2 linked regions of the Homo sapiens genome follow. Changing the gene in region 2 together with the main gene of any one other region gives a genetic interaction. Each region holds a gene or a part of one and is shown on either strand. Other genes may lie near its edges.

Region 1 (3,830 bases), on a different chromosome or scaffold from region 2:
ACTGAAGGACATATGGGATATTTTTAAATCCTTTTTATATATTTCTCTATTATTTATTTTTACAATGGGTATATACAATTTTTTTCACAAGAAATACAATAAGGCTATTTGCATTTCGATAAAAAGAAAAATGAAAATATCTCAGAAAACCACTCAGTCATTAGTACCATAATAAAATTTGGTTCAGCAAGATTTTCAAGTCAAGGTTAAAGTCCCCTAAGGAATAAGACCCAGATCCAGCATATTTTCAAGGGAAAAGGGGCTAAAGGCAGAGCAGGCAAAGAGGTCTCCAATCAAGTATTAAGCAGCCTGGGGCTAGGGCTATATTCAGGGAATTTTACTTGGAAAAAAAAATCAATAGACAACAGAAGGCATCTGTGGTATTCAGGTCCAAGAGAAACCAAAAGTATGACGGCTCACTACAATCTGGAGTCAGAGTGGATCTTATATAACTTTACCACAATTCTTGCTTTCAGTATTACAAAGGAAAATACCTCCTTCTCCCCCTACAACAGGCCCAGGATCCAATGGCAATTGGATCTCTCTCCAGTGGGAAGAAGTTTGAAGTTTTTAAAATATTTACTTAACAGAATTAAAGTATTTTATTTCAATATGAGTGCCATATAATTGTGGTGCTTCCATAGGATGGAATGCGATGGAGTCATTAAAGTATACATTTTTAAATGTATACTTTACGGAGACTGAAAAGAACATGATGCATTAAACTACTCACCTCCATGGGAAGACATGTCTGTCCATGGGTAGATGCTCCTAGATGTGACATCACAGACCCATTCTTAATTTGAAAGTGTATTTTGCACATGTAGCCATCAGAACAGTCCTGTGTTTCATCACCAAAAAATATATAAGAAAATGCCAATTATTTTAAGAATTCATCATTTTAAGAACCACTTCCCATAAGTTCCAAACTGATCAGTGAAAAACTAAATGTACTAAATGAGACTATATGGATAAAGAGACTAGTCCAACACCCTGTACGTAGTAAGTACTCAATAAATGCAAGTTTTATTCTCCTACCTCTCTTATTTATTAATGATGTTTCCACCCTCCTAGATTAAACCTTTCCCTTTTTTCCTGACTAGTCCATAGCACCAAGATCACAGAACAAAACTTAAGCTTATAGAAATAGCTTGTCACATAATTAATATTGATTTTCATGGCATACACATAGAGAACAATTTTAGGACTTGAAATAGATCTTGAAGCTGCAAGAAAGCTTCCATTTCAATTTCTTTCTCAAGGCAAGATCTCTATGAAAATGTCCCAGAAAGGTACTTATGCATCTCAGCAACTGCCTGAGTACCTCCAGGAACTGGCCCTTGTTACTCCCTTACACAGCGGTCATTTCCATTTTAGTGCATTGTACATTAAGAAAGTTTTGTCCTGTATTTCACATCCTTTAACTTACTTAGTTCTGCCCTCTGAAGTCTAATCCCTTTTCCACACAGCTGTTCTTCCAAGCGCTGAAGAAATGACCACCATTTGCAAATACTCCTTACAAAATATGGTTTCTGAGCCCTTTACCAGTATTTGTCTCCTGTTTCTTGTACTTGCTCTTAAATACACTAATGAATGATGTTCATCTAATTGTGGCCAGTTCCATTTTTTTAAGGTAACACTTTTTTGAATTCAATAAAGTCATGTGTAAGAATATAATACCTCCCCAAGAACAAACATACATGCCAATAAATATTAATTCCCCACCACATTGTCATACCAACATTTACATTTTAATAGAATTAAAATAATAAGGACTAAGGGGTTAATCTTCCTATAAGAAGAGGGAAATTTGGATGCAGTGACACAAACAGGGAAGAAAGCCATGTGAAGATGAAGACTGGAGCGGTGCATCTAGGAGCTAAAGATTGCCATCAGCCACTGGAAGCTAGAAGCAGTAAGGAATGGTCCTTCCCTAAAGCCTCTGGTGGGAGCAGGACCCTGCCAACATCTTGATTTCAGACTTCTAACCTCCAGAACTGTGAGAGAATAAATTTCTGTTACTTTAAGTCACCCAGTTTGTGGTTCCTTGTTATAACATTCCTAGGAAACTAATACAGTAACTCTATTTTTTAAGACACTTGACAGCACCTTAAGAATGCCTCCCAGTAAGTTGTGCTGACAAACAGCCAGCTCTCACTCAGGGGGCTGCACTGGTTAGTTGTTGATTGGTTAGATCCAACTCATTCTGATTGGTTGATGCCTCTGTCACAGGTTGCTAAATATTTTTAATATCATTCCTGCCTGGAAAGTAGGCCATCAGATATCCAATACTGTCATTTTTAATTATTTCATTAAGGATATCCATTTTGTAGATGGAATTACTGTTTTAAATTCCAGCTCTACACTATCTGACCACAAAGCAGATCCTGTAATGGTCTTCTACCATTGAAACCTTCGTATTTAGAAAAATGTAAATTTAACATTGGCTTAAACTGAGAAAGATATATGTAATGACTGTTGTCATTGCCACTGTTTCACATCAAACATCCATTCTTCCTTCTTTTGGAGCAGTAGTCATTGCTCCTCTAAGGAACAATTGCTCCTCAATTCTCCTGATTGAGAAGGGAATGGTTCCTTAGAGGAGCATTGGCTACTGTTACACTAATTACAGCTCCAGGGATAGACACAGATCTCTGATCCTGCCCATCAGTACTGCCGGCCCCAGAGACTCTGGAGGACAAATGATTACAGCTCCAGGGATAGACACAGATCTCTGATCCTGCCCATCAGTACTGCCGGCCCCAGAGACTCTGGAGGACAAATGATCTACATCACAGCCAATGGGATGAAATTCAGGATTTGGTTTTGGGGGGTTGGGAAAGGTGGCTGTTCTCTTCTCCACTAGGTTTGAGCCAGACAGACCACAAAAAAAAAAAAAAAAAAAACCTGGCAGCCATCATGTAATTAAACGAAGTTGGCTCTGCAACTCAGAGGAAAGCAAGACCATGAGATACAGAGAAACCACATTCTGACTACATTATTTACACCAACCATATCTGAAACTAGTTCTATCTCAGATTTTTCAATTACATGGCCCCAAAAAGTCCCTTCTTTGCTTCACCCAATGGGTTGGGTTTTCTGTCACTTGCAACCAAAATAATTTTGCTATTAAGTAACATAAATTTGTGTTTATTAGTTTAAAAATAGAAGATTTCTATTGTATTGTCAATCTTGAGATAGATAATCAATAGTTGATTATATAAAAGATTTACCATATACAGTCATGCATCACTTAACGGCAGGAATACCTTCTGAGAAACACGTCATTGGGCTATTCTGTCATTGTACAAACATCATAGACTGTGCTTACACAAACCCAAATGGTATGGCCTCCTACATACGTAGGCTATAGACATAGTTGCTTGCTCCTAGGCTGCAAACCTGTACAGCATGTTACTGTATTAATTGCAGGCAATTGTAACAAAATTTGTGTAAAATTTGTAAGTATTTGTGTATCTAAGCATATCTAAACAAAGAAAATGTACAGCAAAAATACAGTATTATAATCTCATGGGAACACTGTACATGTGGTCTGTTCTTGACCGAAATGTCATTATGCAGCATGACTATACGGTAAAACTATAATAGCATGTGTTTGAGAGAAAAATTACCCAAAGTCTGCAATTTCAAAATGATCTAGCCATAGAGATAAAAACCAAAACTCTCAGGATATTCAGAGAACACGGAGCTGCACTGTGTGTACTAAATATAGCTCATTAAATGAGGGTAACTGCTCTATTTTGTATTTTTCAATACCTGAGCCCTGGTCACATAACCTCCTCTTAAGGGAACATAAAATTTAGTAAAAT
Region 2 (3,830 bases):
ATGTCCAGTATATACAGGTAACCCCTTTCTCTCTCTAGTATGTTTTTTAATTGCCTGCTTCTTTTTCCCTGGCTTCTTTATGACTCCAAACCACTTTGCCAGCTCAGTGCCTAATTGTTTCCATGTACAAAGTTGATTCTCCAGCCAAAGTGGTCCACAATCTAGTCTGCCAGTCTGAGTTGCCATGACCATCTCTCCTCTCCAGCTACTGGAAGTATACCCACCCAAGAAGGCCTGACTCGGTCCCTACAGCCTCCACAAACAGGCACCTTTGCCAGAAGTATTAATAAAATTTTGTACTCTCTATCCTCTTGGCATTTTTTAACCACCTATGTCACACAACTTTTACCAGAATTGTTTGGTTATAATGTATTGCTGTCCTCTCTACACCTGGTATAAGGGAGGTTTAAGACAGGTTAAGAGCCCTGTTTTAAACACTGACATTTCCCCAGCCACTAATACTTACTAAGGTGAAAGAGACACTCAGTATTTGTGAGTAAATGTGGACAAGGAAAGAGAATGAATTTTGTAGTAACCTTTTGTTTAAAGTAAGCATAAATTGTCTTATTATCTGTTTAAGTCTGGGGTTTGGTGGGATTTTCCACTTGGTCTTCCGGTTGTTTTCATGTTCTATAATTGCCACAGGAGTGTTTAATATCAGTCATCAGCCCCTTACCCCACAGTAAATGGTGTATGCATGGTATGGGACAATAGACTTTGTTTTATGCCACCCGTTTCACTCAGCCCACCGTTCTCTTTTAGGAACTTTGAATGAAGAAAGAGAAAGAAATCTTTTTCCAGCCTTTACTAGTTCCCTATGAAGCTTTTGGTCAAATATGTTAGAAACCAATATTATTTCATTAAACAACCAACAAGGTCTTTGGGGAATAATTGATTTAGTTTTATGACTTCAGCTGTCATAAAAGCTGCCACTTTTATGTCTCCTAAGTCAGGCTCTTCAGTTCTAAATTTATTTGCTTTCGGTGTGACAACTTCAGTAGCCTGGCTATTTTCACTTGTATTACTGAAACTGAACTCAACACTTTCCTGTTAAATCAACTCCTCTTATCTGTACATTCATTCAAGTGTTCAGTAAATAGGTATTGAGTGTCTGCCGTATGCCAGGCCCTGTTTGGTTGCCCATTTTCTGTCATTAATACTAACGTTCTTCCTGTCTCTGAGTTTTGGAATATCAGAGGCATCACTAACCCAGTTGTCTTCAGAGGTGTCCACATCCTCTTGATTCTGTCATTCATGCATTTGCTCAGTCAATATTTATTGGACACTGTCTGTATGTCAGGCACTTGAGATACAGTCACAGATAAAACAGATAAAAAATGCTCTTCTCACAAAGTTTACATTTTAGCAGGGGGAGAATGTCTTGGGCACATGCCCGGGAGAAGTTTTAGGTGGCCGAGCAGCCTGTATAAGGGTGAGACTAGCTAAGTGATGTCAGAGAAGCAGTAGTAAGGCGCCAGATCATCCAGGGCCCTGTGGACCGCTGTAAGGTCTTCAGCTTCATTGTGGGCACTCCTGAAATGTCTACTGGGTTCATCCCTTGCCATTTTGCCTCTCCTTCCAGTCTCTTTCATGCCTGTTAGCCCAAGCTTGTATGACTTGAGCACCTTTCTGACTGAATTAGCAGACTCTTCTTTCCTCCTTTATTTTATCCTGTATATTGCTGCCAAATTAGTCTTTCTGAAAATGGTCATTTCTCATTCAGCCAACATTTATTAGTACCTGCTGTCAGCAAGGAACTATTAGGTACTGGGGTTATGAGAAAATTGGAGAGATATATTCCATACCCTTCTATCATTAGGGAGACCAAATTTAACAATGTGATTATATATAAGTAATTATTTAGTTATAGATGCATGGCTGCTTGACCTTGAGCAAGTTGCTTATGCTTTCTGCCTCACTTTCATTATCTGTAGAATGGGAGGATTATAATAGTACCCATCCCATAGAGTTATTGTGCTGATTAAATGGCGTAACACAGAGTAAGTGCTTATACAGATGTAAGCTAGACCTGTCTACCTGACCAACTTTATCCATAGCTGCTCTCCTCTACTGTATCATCTTTCCTCTTTTAGATGGACCAGCCTCCTTGTCATGACCATGATCATTTCCACCTGCCTCATCTTTGCTCTTGCTTTTATACCAATAATATGGACTGCAGTCCCCACCTAATTCTTCTTTCATTCAGAGCTCATTACAAATTTCAACTTTTCCTGGAGTCTTGTTTGTAAAACCAGTACCACCAGTCCTAGGACTCTTCATGTCTGTGGTCAAGTCTTCCTTTCAACATGTGGGTGTCTCCATAAATGAATGAGATTTTAAATTTGTTTGATACCTGCTGTGTATTCCTTGCATACCCAGCACATTGTTGCCCATATTGTTGACATGTAGTATGTATTTATTACAATTATATGATTAATGAAATGTATCTTATTTTTTTCATGTATAGCATGTACAGCACACTCCTGGCTCATAAAAAACTACATATAAGAAATTTTGCTGCTGAAAGTTTTACTTTTTTGATGAGAAAGGTTAGTCTGGTATTTTATCTGTTTGTTGCTAATCATCAAGAATCTGATGAATAGGCCAGGCGTGGTGGCTCATGCCTGTAATCCCAACACCTTGGGAGGCCGAGGCAGGTGGATCACCTGAGGTCAGGAATTGGAGACCAGCCTGACCAACATGGCAAAACCCCGTCTCTACTAAAAATGCAAAAATTAGCTGGGCGTGGTGGCGCGCACCTGTATCCTCAGCTACTTGGGAGGCTGAGACATGAGAATTGCTTGAGCCCAGGAGGTGGAAGTTGCAGTGAGCTGAGATCACACCACTGCACTCCAGCCTAGGCGACAGAGCAAGACTCCATATCACACACACACACACATACACACACACACTAGTAATAATAATAATAATAATAATCTGATGAATAGAAGTAGATATCTTTTAAAAATGTGGTTATTATGGGCTAATTTTTTCTATGTATCTATATATATACTTAACAGAAATCTGTTACTATTTTGAATTTATCTCACAGTAAGACTTATTTGTTGCTCACAAATTGATGTGATCTAATTTGGGTCACTATTGTATTGTTATTTAGGTTTGTGATAGCTTTCAGTGTGTATATATCAAAAATGCTCTCTAATTCAAGTCAGTAAATACATGAACTGTGACATTAACAAGAACTTTTCTAATAGTTTCCTGGAAGTAACTGGTAGCATGGTGTCATTTGTGTTTGTATAAAATATTCATAGTAAATTTTAGAGGGTTTTTGTAATAAAACAAAAACATTAATATTAAATTTTTTATTTCATAAAATACAAATATTTTACTGTATACAATACAAAATACAAATGTATTTACTTTAAAAGATAGAATGTTGACTTCTGTAGTTTTTTTTGTAGTACATATCTTCCTGTAATACCAATGAATTCACTCTTTTGTGTGACATTCCAAGTGAGAACACACTATTAGAGTAGTTTGAAATCATTACAAATGTCTGTTCTTTTCACAATTTTTTCCTAAGTATATTTAAATAACAATATATAGAATAGCAAATGAGAGTTCTTCATTTGGATATGTTTATGTTTGTGAATATAATTTTCCATTTCTACTTTATATTTTAGGTCTCTGATAAAAACGCACTTTTCAATTTAATGTTTCTTGATCTTGATAAACATCCAGAAAAAGTTGAAGGTGTTGGACAGTTGCTCTTTGAAATGTGCAAAGGAGTTAGAAATATGTTTCACTCCTGTACAGGCCAGGTACATAATGGGGAGGGGTGCTTAGAGTCTATGTGGATGGATGAAACA

Evidence for each region.
Region 1: of UTP20 (region 2) and ATG10, changing one suppresses a phenotype caused by changing the other (phenotypic suppression), as found in Homo sapiens cells (one large-scale study listed by BioGRID).

What each region holds. Positions count from the first base shown.
Region 1 is NC_000005.10:82,055,506-82,059,335, reverse strand, and holds part of ATG10 (ubiquitin-like-conjugating enzyme ATG10), read right to left. Parts: intron 842-3,830; coding exon 734-841; intron 1-733. UniProt on the Homo sapiens protein: E2-like enzyme involved in autophagy. Acts as an E2-like enzyme that catalyzes the conjugation of ATG12 to ATG5. ATG12 conjugation to ATG5 is required for autophagy. Likely serves as an ATG5-recognition molecule. Not involved in ATG12 conjugation to ATG3.
Region 2 is NC_000012.12:101,286,493-101,290,322, forward strand, and holds part of UTP20 (small subunit processome component 20 homolog), read left to right. Parts: coding exon 1-17; intron 18-2,467; coding exon 2,468-2,549; intron 2,550-3,644; coding exon 3,645-3,782; intron 3,783-3,830. UniProt on the Homo sapiens protein: Part of the small subunit (SSU) processome, first precursor of the small eukaryotic ribosomal subunit.